Homo sapiens: one gene and its partners. The protein of the gene in region 1 purifies or fractionates together with the protein of each later gene. This does not show direct contact. Each region holds a gene or a part of one and is shown in the gene's direction. Other genes may lie near its edges.

Region 1 (3,649 bases):
TGTTCTTTATTTCCTAAATTTTATTTTTGCAGTTTAACTTGTTAATTCTTTTTCTTTTTGAAAAGAGAATAGTCAACTTCTTTGGAAAATGGTTCTTAATTTATCTGCAGCCCTATTTTGAAATAAAGTGTATATGGTAAAAGAAAGATTTGTACCATTTCAATTTTTTTTGTTAAGGATTGAGACTTGAATGGCAAAAAGTTGTCTGTCTGTTTTTGAGACGGGGTCTTGCTCTGTGGTCCAGGCTGGAGTACAGTGACACGATCATGACTCACTTCAGCCTTGAACTTCTGAGCTCAAGTTATCCTCCAGCCTCAGCCTTAAATATATATATTTTTTAATTTGACAAATTTATACTTGTGGTAGGTGAAATGTTTGAATAAAGAAGTAATATAACAGGTAGTTATTTTTCCCCCAATTATAACATGACATACTTCAGTACTTGCTATTATATGTCCTGAGGTGAATCTGGTTCATTGACTCATGAGCACATCCATTAAGTGTGTGTTACAGAAACACCTTATTTATTTATTTGTTTGTTTGAGACAGGGTCTGGCTCTGTCACCCAGGCTGGAGTGCAGTGGTGCAATCTCGGCTCACTGCAACTTCCGCCCCGGCGGGCTCAAGTGATTCTCCCACCTGGGCCTCCCAAAGTGCTGGGATTACAGGTGTGAGCCATCATGCCCAGCCTATTTATTTTAATATATGCTTTGTTGCCCTTCTTTGGAAAAAGTCTTATTCTGGTTATTCTGTTATTTCTTGTTCTTGTGCTGCAAATCCCTCCATTTGGTGAGTCCACTGACTATCTCTCATCATGGTTCATTTTCTATTCTGGTCTGTAACTTTTTACTGTGATGCATCATTAGTAAAGGTTTAGTCTGTTGTATGTTTTGGAAGCATTCCTGCAAAGAGTTTTCACATTTGCTCTTACCAGGTCCTAAAGTTTTACCAGTTCAGGACTACTTTTCTTTTTTCAGTTTTTGGCATGAGGATAGGGTGGGATTCTAAACCATGAAGGTTGTGTGAATTTAGGCCCACACTCTATGCATGGTTCATGCCTCATATGGTTCTGATTTCCTCTGGTGACTTTCCCCCCATTGCCTTAGTTGATGTCATGCCTACTTGGGTTTCCTGGCCAGTAAGCTAAGTTTTTATAGTCCTGGTTTCATGGATAGGGTGATCCTTTCAGAGTTTTGACTTTATGAAGGTCCTTCCAACTGTGACCTGTGTCTTTAAATAACGTCTCTGAATGGGTGTTAGGGAGTCCCCTTGTAACCATTATGGCCTGTAACTGGTTCCATGAGTCATGTTAGCTTCAGCCCCTGACCTCTGTTCATTGACTTTCTTTTTTCTGCTCATTGACTTTCTTTCTTTCTTTTTTTTTTTTTTTTGAGACGGAGTTTTTCTCTTGTTGCCCAGGCTGGAGTGCAATGGCATGATCTTGGCTCACTGCAATCTCCACCTCTTGGATTCAAGCGATTCTCCTGCCTCACTCTCCCGAGTAGCTGGGATTACAGTCATGTGCCACCATGCCTGGCTAATTTTATATTTTTAGTAGAGACGGGGTTTCTCTGTGTTGGTCAAGCTGGTTTCAAACTCCTGACCTCAGGTGATCCACCTGCCTCAGCCTCCCAAAGTGCTGGGATTACAGGCGTGAGCCACCATGCCCAGCTAACTTTCTTCTTAGTTTCTTACTACTGTGGATTCTCTGCACTTCTTTCAAGTTCAGTTATTTAAGTAGTGTTTCAGTGCTTATATTTTTAAATATTTCATTGTGTTTGGATCTGTTTGGGTTTGAGAGGCAAAAGGATGCTGTTATACAATTTAAAATTATTTTAGATTTTTATAATTTTTAATTTGCTCATCACCTATCAACATGTCAAATATTTTGTGCCTATTATGTACTGTGTACTTTGAGAAATAAAGATCTTTGGCTAGATTCCCTCCTTCAAGAGACTTATTCCTAATATAAACCCTAGTGGAACTAAGGTATATATCTCATAAAAATGCAGTGCCAGTAGGTATCAGAAAGTAAGGCTACTGATGTGGAAAAAAGTGGTTGGAAAAGAAATGATAGAGGAAGCGAGACTTAACGTAAAATACGAAGAGTGGTTAGAACTTGATTGGGTTTGCTGGGTTAGACAAGAAGAGATTGGTCCAGCTTGAAGAGAGCCTTAAAATACCAAACCAAATAATTTAGATTATATCTTGCAGATAAGAAAAAGGCATTGGAGGTTTTTCAGTGGAAGGGACATTTAGTGCAAATAATGTTTTATAATCTTAGTGCTGAAGTTTTGGAAGACTAGTGCATTGCTCTATTAAAGAAAAGTTGGGGCAGGGCGTGGTGGCTTACACCTGTAATCCCAGCACTTTGGGAGGCCGAGGCAGGCAGATCACCTGAGGTCAGGAGTTCGAGATCAGCCTTGCTAACATGGTGAAACCCTGTTTCTACTAAAACTACAAAAAATTAGCTGGGCATGATGGTGTATGCCTGTAGTCCCAGCTACTCAGGAGGATGAGGCATGAGAATCGCTTGAAACCAGGAGGCAGAGGTTACAGTGAGCCGAGATTGCGCCAGGGCACTCCAGCCTGGGCGGCAAGAGAGACACCCTGTCTCGAAAAAAAAAAAAGAAAAGTTGGTACATCTCCCTTCTTAGAAGTTAAACTCAAGACTTTACAGGTACAAAAATAAGTTTGTTTTATAGTTCCTTGTTGTCAACAAAAGTTTACCTACTCAATGAGGATGGGCCCCAGCCTATGTTGTAAATGAGTGGAGCTGGCTGGGAACGAGAGTGGCCACTGAGAGAGCTCATGCCTCTTGGGATCTTGTTGATTGTTAAAGGTTACAAACTAGATCAAATTTTTAAAAAACACTGTTTGGCCTCAGTGAAATATGTATACAAACATAGTTTGAAACAAAAGCTGTGAGTTTGCAACCTCTTTATAGATAGCGTTCATTATTAAATCTTTATTATATTCTATCATAACATTTAAAAAATACATTATTTAAAATTGTGTACAAAATAGAAAAATGTGGCCTGTTTGATTTGAAGGGTTGAATAAGTGGCTATTTATAATTTTGGATATTTTGACTTTGTGACTTGGACATAAAAATATTTTCCAAAACTCTTTTCTTACAGGTAAAAGAATGTCACATGTCAGCATTTGTACCTGAAGTCAGCATGCAAAGTTCAGGGTACCTGGATGAATGCCAACTTTTGCATTTCCCATGTGTATCCTGTGACCATTCTATCTGGGGTGAGTGATTTCTAAGAGTAGCTGGCAACAAACCAGATGCCAGCCAGCCATGGACTGCCCTAACAAATAATGCTAGGAGTTATAAATTAAACACTGATCTGTGATCTGTGATGTGTAAGGCAGTTAATGTAGTTCATCTGGATTAACTGTCAGCACCAAAGAACTATATTCCCATAATGTGAAATCTGAATTCTGTATGTTTGAAAGAGAGTAATAATTAACAGTAGGGAATTTTTGTTAACATGTAAAATTACAGCAATGTCTAAGATTATTTTGAATTTACAGCAGTATTTTAGTGGTTCACCATATAATTTAAATAATTTTAATTTTCAGATTCAAAGACTTAGTATTTCTTGAGTGATGGTTATAATTTTGTATAAAATACGGCTTT
Region 2 (3,749 bases), on another chromosome or scaffold:
TTGGGCAAGCCACCAGACCAGCTGCCTGGGTCTCCTCCTCCTTGTTGAGGTGACAACAAGGAACTCAGTTCAGCTCCTCCCTGGGTATCCAAATTATCCTTCCAAGTCCCAGACTCACAGCTGTCCTCCCTTCTGATTCAGCCCTGATGCTTTTCAGGGGGTCCCAGAAGTGGGATCCGGACTTGAGAGAATGTCACAGTTGAAAATGATAAGGATGCAAACGGAATGGAACTTTCAGAGAACCCCAATTTTCTACTCTAAGTTCTCCAAACCAACTCTCAAATCCAAGATAGCTGCCTTTCCTTTCTTCACCTCCTCTTCTTAGTTTTCCCCAACTTGGCTGCAAAGTCAGCCTCCCCTCTTCTCTTCCTTAGCACCTCAGACCAATAAAACATGCAACCTTTTCTTATTCTTTTTAAAAAATTTATTTTTGACCAGGCGCAGTGGCTCACGCCTGTAATGCCAGCACTTTGGGAGGCCAAGGCGGGTGGATCACGAGGTCAGGAGTTCAAGACCAGCCTGGCCAACATGGTGAAACCCCATCTCTACTAAAAATACAAAAAATTAGCTGGGTGTGGTGGCACACACCTGTAGTCTCAGCTACTCAGGAGGCTGAAGCAGAAGAATCACTTGAACTTGGGAGGCGGAGGTTGCAGTGAGCCGAGATTGTGCCACTATACTCCAGTCTGGGTGACAGAGTGAGACTGCCTCAAAAAGAAAAAAAATTATTTTGTTTGTTTTTTAGATTTTGTAGAGATGGTGTTTCCCTAAGTTGCTCAGGCTGGTCTCGAACTCCTGGCCTCAAGTGATCCTCTCGCCCGGGCCTCCCAAAGTCCTGGGATTACGGGTGTAAGCCAACATGCCTGGCCCCTTTACTTCTTCTTTTCTGTTTTGGTCACAAAACATTTCTCTGTTGATCACTGTAGTGTGTGTGTGGAGGGAAGTGGGGGAGGTACACTCTTAAGAAATGAAATAGTTAACATCTTGGTCCTAAGATTTGTTGTAGAGATGGAGTCTTCTCATTCTGTTCCCCAGGCTGGTCTTGAACTCCTGGCCTCAAGCAATCCTCTTTCCTCGGCTTCCCAAAGTGCTGAGATTGATTACAAGTGTGAGGTACTGCGCCCTGCTACAATCCTTTAATAGGATGTTTTTGGGGGGGGTGGCAGGGGGCAGGATCTAGCTCACTGTAACCTATACTGTTCCAGTGTAACCTGCACCAAGCCATCCTCCCACCTCAGTCTCTTGAGTAGCTAGGAACACAAGCACACATCACCACACCTGGCTCTAACACGATTTTGCTTTTTGCTTTTGTCATTTTGGCTGCTGTTCTTTTTATCTTTCATTCATTCAAGGTCTGAAGATGGAGATAATAGGAATCTTCTCATCTCAATGTGCTCTTTGGCCCCTCCTCTTAAACTGATGCCCCTCTCAGGCCCTGAGGGATTTGGCCTCAGGTTGCCCTGGAAGGGGTGTGAGTGATCAGACAGGTGACTGAGAGCTGGGACGCCTGAGGCCTGCCTAGGCTGAGTCACCTAGTAATGTTGTTGTCATTGTTCCTGTTGAAGTCCCAGCTCAGTGTCACAGACCTTTGTGGAAGCAACAACAGCTCCCATCCTTCCAACCTTTCTGGAGAAGCCGTGGCCTGATGGTGAGCCGAATGGGCTGGGGGGGGAGAAGAAGGCGGCTGGGGCGGTGGGGAGATCTGGGGCCCGGATCGGTGCCCCTCCTCCCCATGCCACTGCCACCTCCTCCTCCTCCTTCATGCCGGGGACCTGGGGGAGGGAGGATCTCCATCTTCTCTCTGTCCCCTGCCCCTCATACAAGAAGCTCCCCCTCCTCATTTTCCCCTCCCACCGCAGGGCCCCCTTGCTCAGTGCTACAGGGGACAGGGGCTTCTCAGTCTTGCCACAGTGCTCTCCCTATCCCAGCCACCCCCCCAACACAGGCTCAACCTGCAATGACACCTGCCTCTGCATCTCCCTCCTGGGGATCCCACTCCACCCCACCCCTGGCCCCGGCAACCCCCACTCCCTCACAGCAGTGCCCCCAGGACTCTCCTGGGCTGCGGGTAGGCCCTTTGATCCCTGAACAGGATTATGAGCGGCTGGAGGACTGTGACCCTGAGGGGTCCCAAGACTCACCCATCCACGGGGAGGAGCAGCAACCCCTGCTTCATGTCCCTGAAGGGCTCCGAGGTATGTGTGTGGGTGTGGGTGGGAGAGGGTTAGTGGTGCCTGGGAGCTCCAGTACTTATCCCAGGCTGGGCCTCTGGCAGCGGGTTGAGAACGTGGAGAATTGATCACATGCCAGGGGCTGACACTCTCCCCTCTGTGCCCAGGCTCCTGGCATCACATCCAGAACCTGGACAGTTTCTTCACCAAGATATCCTTTGCGCTAGGCCTGCAGAGGTGGCATGGGAAGGTCCTCTTGGAGCTGGCACTGTTCTTGGCAGGGAGACTCCGTGAGGGCGTCATGGGTGGGAGACTTGTTGGGGCTGAGGGGAGGTGTCCTCAGGAGAGGCCCCCCGTGCCTCAGGCTTGTTCCTTGACACGCAGCCACATCTACAGCTACCACCAGCGGAATGGCTTTGCCTGCATCTTGCTGGAGGATGTCTTCCAGCTGGGGTGAGACGCTTAGCCCGGGCCCGGAACTCGGTCCCCTGGGCCCATGGCTTCCTTCTGTCATTTTGCTTCCTTAATTGTGCCAGCTGCTTCCATCCCATGCTTTCCCGAGCAGCCCAAGGGCTCAGCAGGGGCAGGGTCAGGGAGGATAACCATGGGCTGCTCTGGGGGCTGGGGCAGGAGCCCACCTGGCTGTCCCTGATCACTGCAGCATCCCGGCACCCCCCCTTCCTCCCGGCAGACAATTTATTTTCATTGTCACCTTCACAACCTTCCTCCTTCGATGCGTGGATTACAATGTTCTCTTTGCCAACCAACCAAGTAACCATACCAGACCTGGGCCGTTCCACAGCAAAGTGACCCTGTCAGATGCCATCCTACCCTCAGCCCAGTGTGCTGAGAGGTTAGTGACAACCTGGTGGGGCCCTGGGGGTGAAGCATGGGCAGTGGGTAGAGGAGTAGACGGGAGCCCCACTTTGTCCCGTCATCTAGATCAGCAGTTCTCAAAGCTTTTGGTCTTAGGACCAAAAATACACTTAATATACTTTAAGTTGTACTTAAGTGTATTAAGTTGTACTTAAAGTGTATTAAGTATATCTTTTTTTTTTTTTAAGACAGAGTTTCACTCTTGTTGCTCAGGCTGGAGTGCAATGGTGAGGTCTTGGCTCACTGCAACCTCCACCTCCCAGGTTCAAGCAATTCTCCTGCCTCAGCCTCCCCAGTAGCTGGGATTATAGGCGTGCACCACCACGTGTATTTTTAGTAGAGACAGGGTTTCACCATGTTGGCCAGGCTGGTCTGGAACTCCTGGCCTCAGGTGATCCACCCACTTTGGCCTCCCAAAGTGCTGGGATTACAGGTGTGAGCCACTGTGCCCGGCCTTTTAAGTGTATCTTAATTACAGTGCATTAAGTGTATCTTAATACACTTAAAATTGGTTGAGAATCCTGAAAAGCTTTTGTTTATGGGAGTCGTATCTATCCACATTTTACCTTATAAAAAATTAAAATTAGGCCGGGCATAGTGGTTCACACCTGTAATCCCAGCACTTTGGGAGGCTGAGGCAGGAGGATTGCTTGAAGCCAGAAGTTTGAGATCAGCCTGAGCAACAAAGTGAGACCACATCTC
Region 3 (3,399 bases), on another chromosome or scaffold:
TGGGCCTGCAGGGTCCTGTTGAGTTCGAAGCTCTGAACCCACACCCTGCACTTGGTGAATGCCCTGGAGGGCCGGCGAGGTGGGGGGTCTCCTCATCCCAGAGAGGTACAAATGGGTCAGAAGAGCCCAGGGCAGGAGGCTGCGGAGGGGCTGGTCCATCTCTCCCACACCATGAGACCCCATTTTGCGTCTCCCCGCCCCATGCCACCTGCAGACAAGGTGAACCGGGATTCCGTGCGCTCCATCCAGAAGAGCATCTTCACCGTGTGCCTAGATGCAACCATGCCCAGGGTCTCAGAAGACGTGTACCGCAGCCACGTGGCAGGCCAGATGCTGCATGGGGGCGGCAGCAGGCTCAACAGCGGCAACCGCTGGTTCGACAAGACGCTGCAGGTGAGGCCCGGCAGGGCTTCGCCCACTCACACACACCTGAACAGGACCTCTGCAGCCTCGGGACTTCCTGCCCGTCCCCGGCCCTGCGTCCCCAGCCTCCTAGCTTGTAAAGCAGGCAGGAAGCCAGCAGGCTGGACGCTGCCGTAATTACCAGGCAGCCAGCCTGTCATCACCAGTCCTGCCTCTGGCCTGGAAACCGCTGTCACCCCCAGCACACCCCCTCAGCACCTCACAGAGAACCTGGGATCCGGGGTCACCAGTGCAATCCTGGCACAACAGTCCCTCTCCACACCTGTAAAATGGGGTGATGGTCAACCTCACCGGTAGAGTAGTTTGAAGGACTCAGTCAGGCACGCTGAGCGTGGGATGTGCTTAGCACACCAGGGCACCTGGTGAGTGTCAGCTATTGTTAATAACAGTAATAAGTCATCATAGCCCCTTGAGATGGCTTCAGAGAGGCCCTTGCCTCAACCAAAGAGTGGTTGGGTGAGGGGCCACCCCCCAGGGCCCTGGGGCTGACCGGGGTCTCCCTTCCCTTCCACAGTTCATCGTGGCAGAAGATGGCTCCTGTGGGCTTGTGTACGAGCATGCTGCAGCGGAGGGGCCCCCTATTGTCACCCTTCTGGACTATGTCATCGAGTACACGTGAGTACAGTCACATCTCTCGCCTAGTTCCCCAGCTTCTAGTGACAGGTGACACACAGGTGATAGACCAGCTTATAGAGAAATATCACTCTCCTTTGTGCCTGGGAATCTGTTTTTTTCCAAGGAAGCCAGCCAGATATGGTGGCTCACGCCTGTAATCCTGACACTTTGGGAGGCTGAGGTGGGAGGATCAATTGAGGTCAGGAGTTTGAGATCAGCCTGGCCAACATGGTGAAATGCCATCTCTACTAAAAATACAAAAAAAAAAAAAATTACCCAGGTGTGGTATCACATGCCTATAATCCCAGTTACTCAGGAGGCTGAGGCAGGAGAATTGCTTGAACCCAGGAGGCAGAGGTTGCGTTGAGCGGAGACTGTGCCACTGCACTCCAGCCTGGGTGACAGAGCAAGACTCTGTCTCAAAAAAAAAAAAAAAAAATTAGGCCAGGTGCAGTGGCTCATGCCTATAATCCCAGCACTTTGGGAGGCGGATCACCTGAGGTCAGGAGTTCAAGACCAGCCTGGCCAACATGGTGAAACCCTGTCTCTACAAAAATTAGCCAGGCATGATGGCGGGTGCCTGTAATCCCAGCTACTTGGGAGGCTGAGGCAGGAGAATCGCTTGAACCCGGGAGGCAGAGGTTGCAGTGAGCTGAGATCACACCATTGCACTCTAGCCTGGGTGACAGAATGAGACTCTGTTTCAAAAAAAAAAAAAAAAAAGTTAGCCACGCGTGGTGGTGGGTGCCTGTAATCCCAGCTACTCAAGAGGCTAAGGCACAAGAATCACTTGAACCCAGGAGGTGGAGGTTGCAGTGAGCCGAGATCGTTCCATTGCTCCAGCCTGGGTGACAGAGCAAGACTCTGTCTCAAAAGAAAAAGAAAAAAATTAGCCAAGGTGGCGGGCATCTGTAATCCCAGCTACTCAGGAGGCTGAGGCAGGAGAATCGCTTGAACCAGGGAGGCCAAGGTTGCAGTGAGCTGAGATCACATCACTGCACTCCAGCCTGGGCAACAGAGCAAGACTCCATCTAAAAAAAAAAAAAAAAGAAAAAAGAAAAAAAAGCTGAAGTGAGGGTGGTTTTCAGAACAAACTCACACCTCCCTGGGCTGGCCCCCTCCAGCTTCAGGTACCCATCCTCCCCACCCTGGTCCCAGAATGGACCCAGGCTCTAGAGGCACCAGCATGAGCCTGAGGCCCCGTTTACTGTGCAGGAAGAAACCCGAGCTTGTGCGGTCTCCCCTGGTGCCCCTGCCCATGCCCAAGAAGCTGCGGTTCAACATCACCCCCGAGATCAAGAGCGACATCGAGAAGGCCAAGCAGAACCTCAGCATGTAAGTGCCTGCCCCCGCCATCCCTGTGCTGGATGGGTGAGGCCAGGCCCTTGAGCTTGAGAGGCTCCTGTGCCAGCTCTGTCATGACACCCAGACCCTCCGTGGGGTTGGCAGGGGCTGCCGGGGCCTGCTCCTCACCTGCTCTTCCCACACCCCCAGCATGATCCAGGACCTGGATATCACCGTGATGGTGTTCCACCATTTTGGAAAAGACTTCCCCAAGTCGGAGAAGCTAAGCCCAGATGCCTTCATCCAGATGGCTTTGCAGCTGGCCTACTACAGGTGCGCCTCTGTGGCCCACCCATGGAGGAGGGAGGAGACCTGGGGGCAGGGGAGGGGGTGCCCGCCTCCAAGGGGCGTGCTTAGCCCCATTTCCCACCAGGATCTACGGACAGGCATGTGCCACCTATGAAAGTGCCTCCCTGCGCATGTTTCACCTGGGCCGCACCGACACCATCCGCTCGGCTTCCATGGACTCACTCACCTTTGTCAAGGCCATGGATGACTCCAGCGTCACGGTGAGAGGTCTGGGGCGAGGGTGGGTGAGCTGGGCCTGAGCCCCTCCCTCCTGCTCACTCAGTCAACACACAATAATTGAGCACCTACAGGATTCCAGCCCCATGGTGGGCACGGGGAATCTAACAGAAGCTGGAGCCGTGAATCTAGCTCTGAGCTTCCTGGGGACCAAAGAGGAAAAGGGAGTCATTCATTTGTTCATTCATTTATTCATTGGCAGTAAGCAACTGCCCTATGTCAGGCCCTGGCTGAGGACCAAGGAGTTGGTAGTTGCAATACTCGCTCTTTTTTTTTCTTGTTTTTTTTTAGAAAGAGTCTCACTCTGTTGCCCAGGCTGGAGTGCAGTGGTGTGATCTCGACTCACTGCAACCTCCACCTCCCGGGTTCAAGCAATCCTCCTGCCTCAGCCTCCCAAGTAGCTGGGACTACAGGTGCCTGCCACCATGCCCGGCTAATTTTTGTATTTTTAGTAGAAACGGGATTTCACCATGTTGGCCAGGCTGGTCTCAA

What was found.
Region 2: the proteins of FBXL4 (region 1) and ATG9B purify together in Homo sapiens (affinity purification with mass spectrometry; 2 studies listed by BioGRID and IntAct, with this or other methods). This does not show direct contact.
Region 3: the proteins of FBXL4 (region 1) and CRAT purify together in Homo sapiens (affinity purification with mass spectrometry; 2 studies listed by BioGRID and IntAct, with this or other methods). This does not show direct contact.

Annotation. Positions count from the first base shown.
Region 1 is NC_000006.12:98,927,314-98,930,962, reverse strand, and holds part of FBXL4 (F-box/LRR-repeat protein 4), read left to right. Parts: intron 1-3,140; 5' UTR 3,141-3,258; intron 3,259-3,649. UniProt on the Homo sapiens protein: Substrate-recognition component of the mitochondria-localized SCF-FBXL4 ubiquitin E3 ligase complex that plays a role in the restriction of mitophagy by controlling the degradation of BNIP3 and NIX mitophagy receptors.
Region 2 is NC_000007.14:151,022,320-151,026,068, reverse strand, and holds the start of ATG9B (autophagy-related protein 9B), read left to right. Parts: upstream 1-1,574; 5' UTR 1,575-1,645; coding exon 1,646-2,195; intron 2,196-2,338; coding exon 2,339-2,382; intron 2,383-2,559; coding exon 2,560-2,624; intron 2,625-2,862; coding exon 2,863-3,024; intron 3,025-3,749. UniProt on the Homo sapiens protein: Phospholipid scramblase involved in autophagy by mediating autophagosomal membrane expansion. Cycles between the preautophagosomal structure/phagophore assembly site (PAS) and the cytoplasmic vesicle pool and supplies membrane for the growing autophagosome.
Region 3 is NC_000009.12:129,097,505-129,100,903, reverse strand, and holds part of CRAT (carnitine O-acetyltransferase), read left to right. Parts: intron 1-214; coding exon 215-393; intron 394-937; coding exon 938-1,038; intron 1,039-2,253; coding exon 2,254-2,373; intron 2,374-2,532; coding exon 2,533-2,655; intron 2,656-2,755; coding exon 2,756-2,891; intron 2,892-3,399. UniProt on the Homo sapiens protein: Catalyzes the reversible transfer of acyl groups from carnitine to coenzyme A (CoA) and regulates the acyl-CoA/CoA ratio. Also plays a crucial role in the transport of fatty acids for beta-oxidation.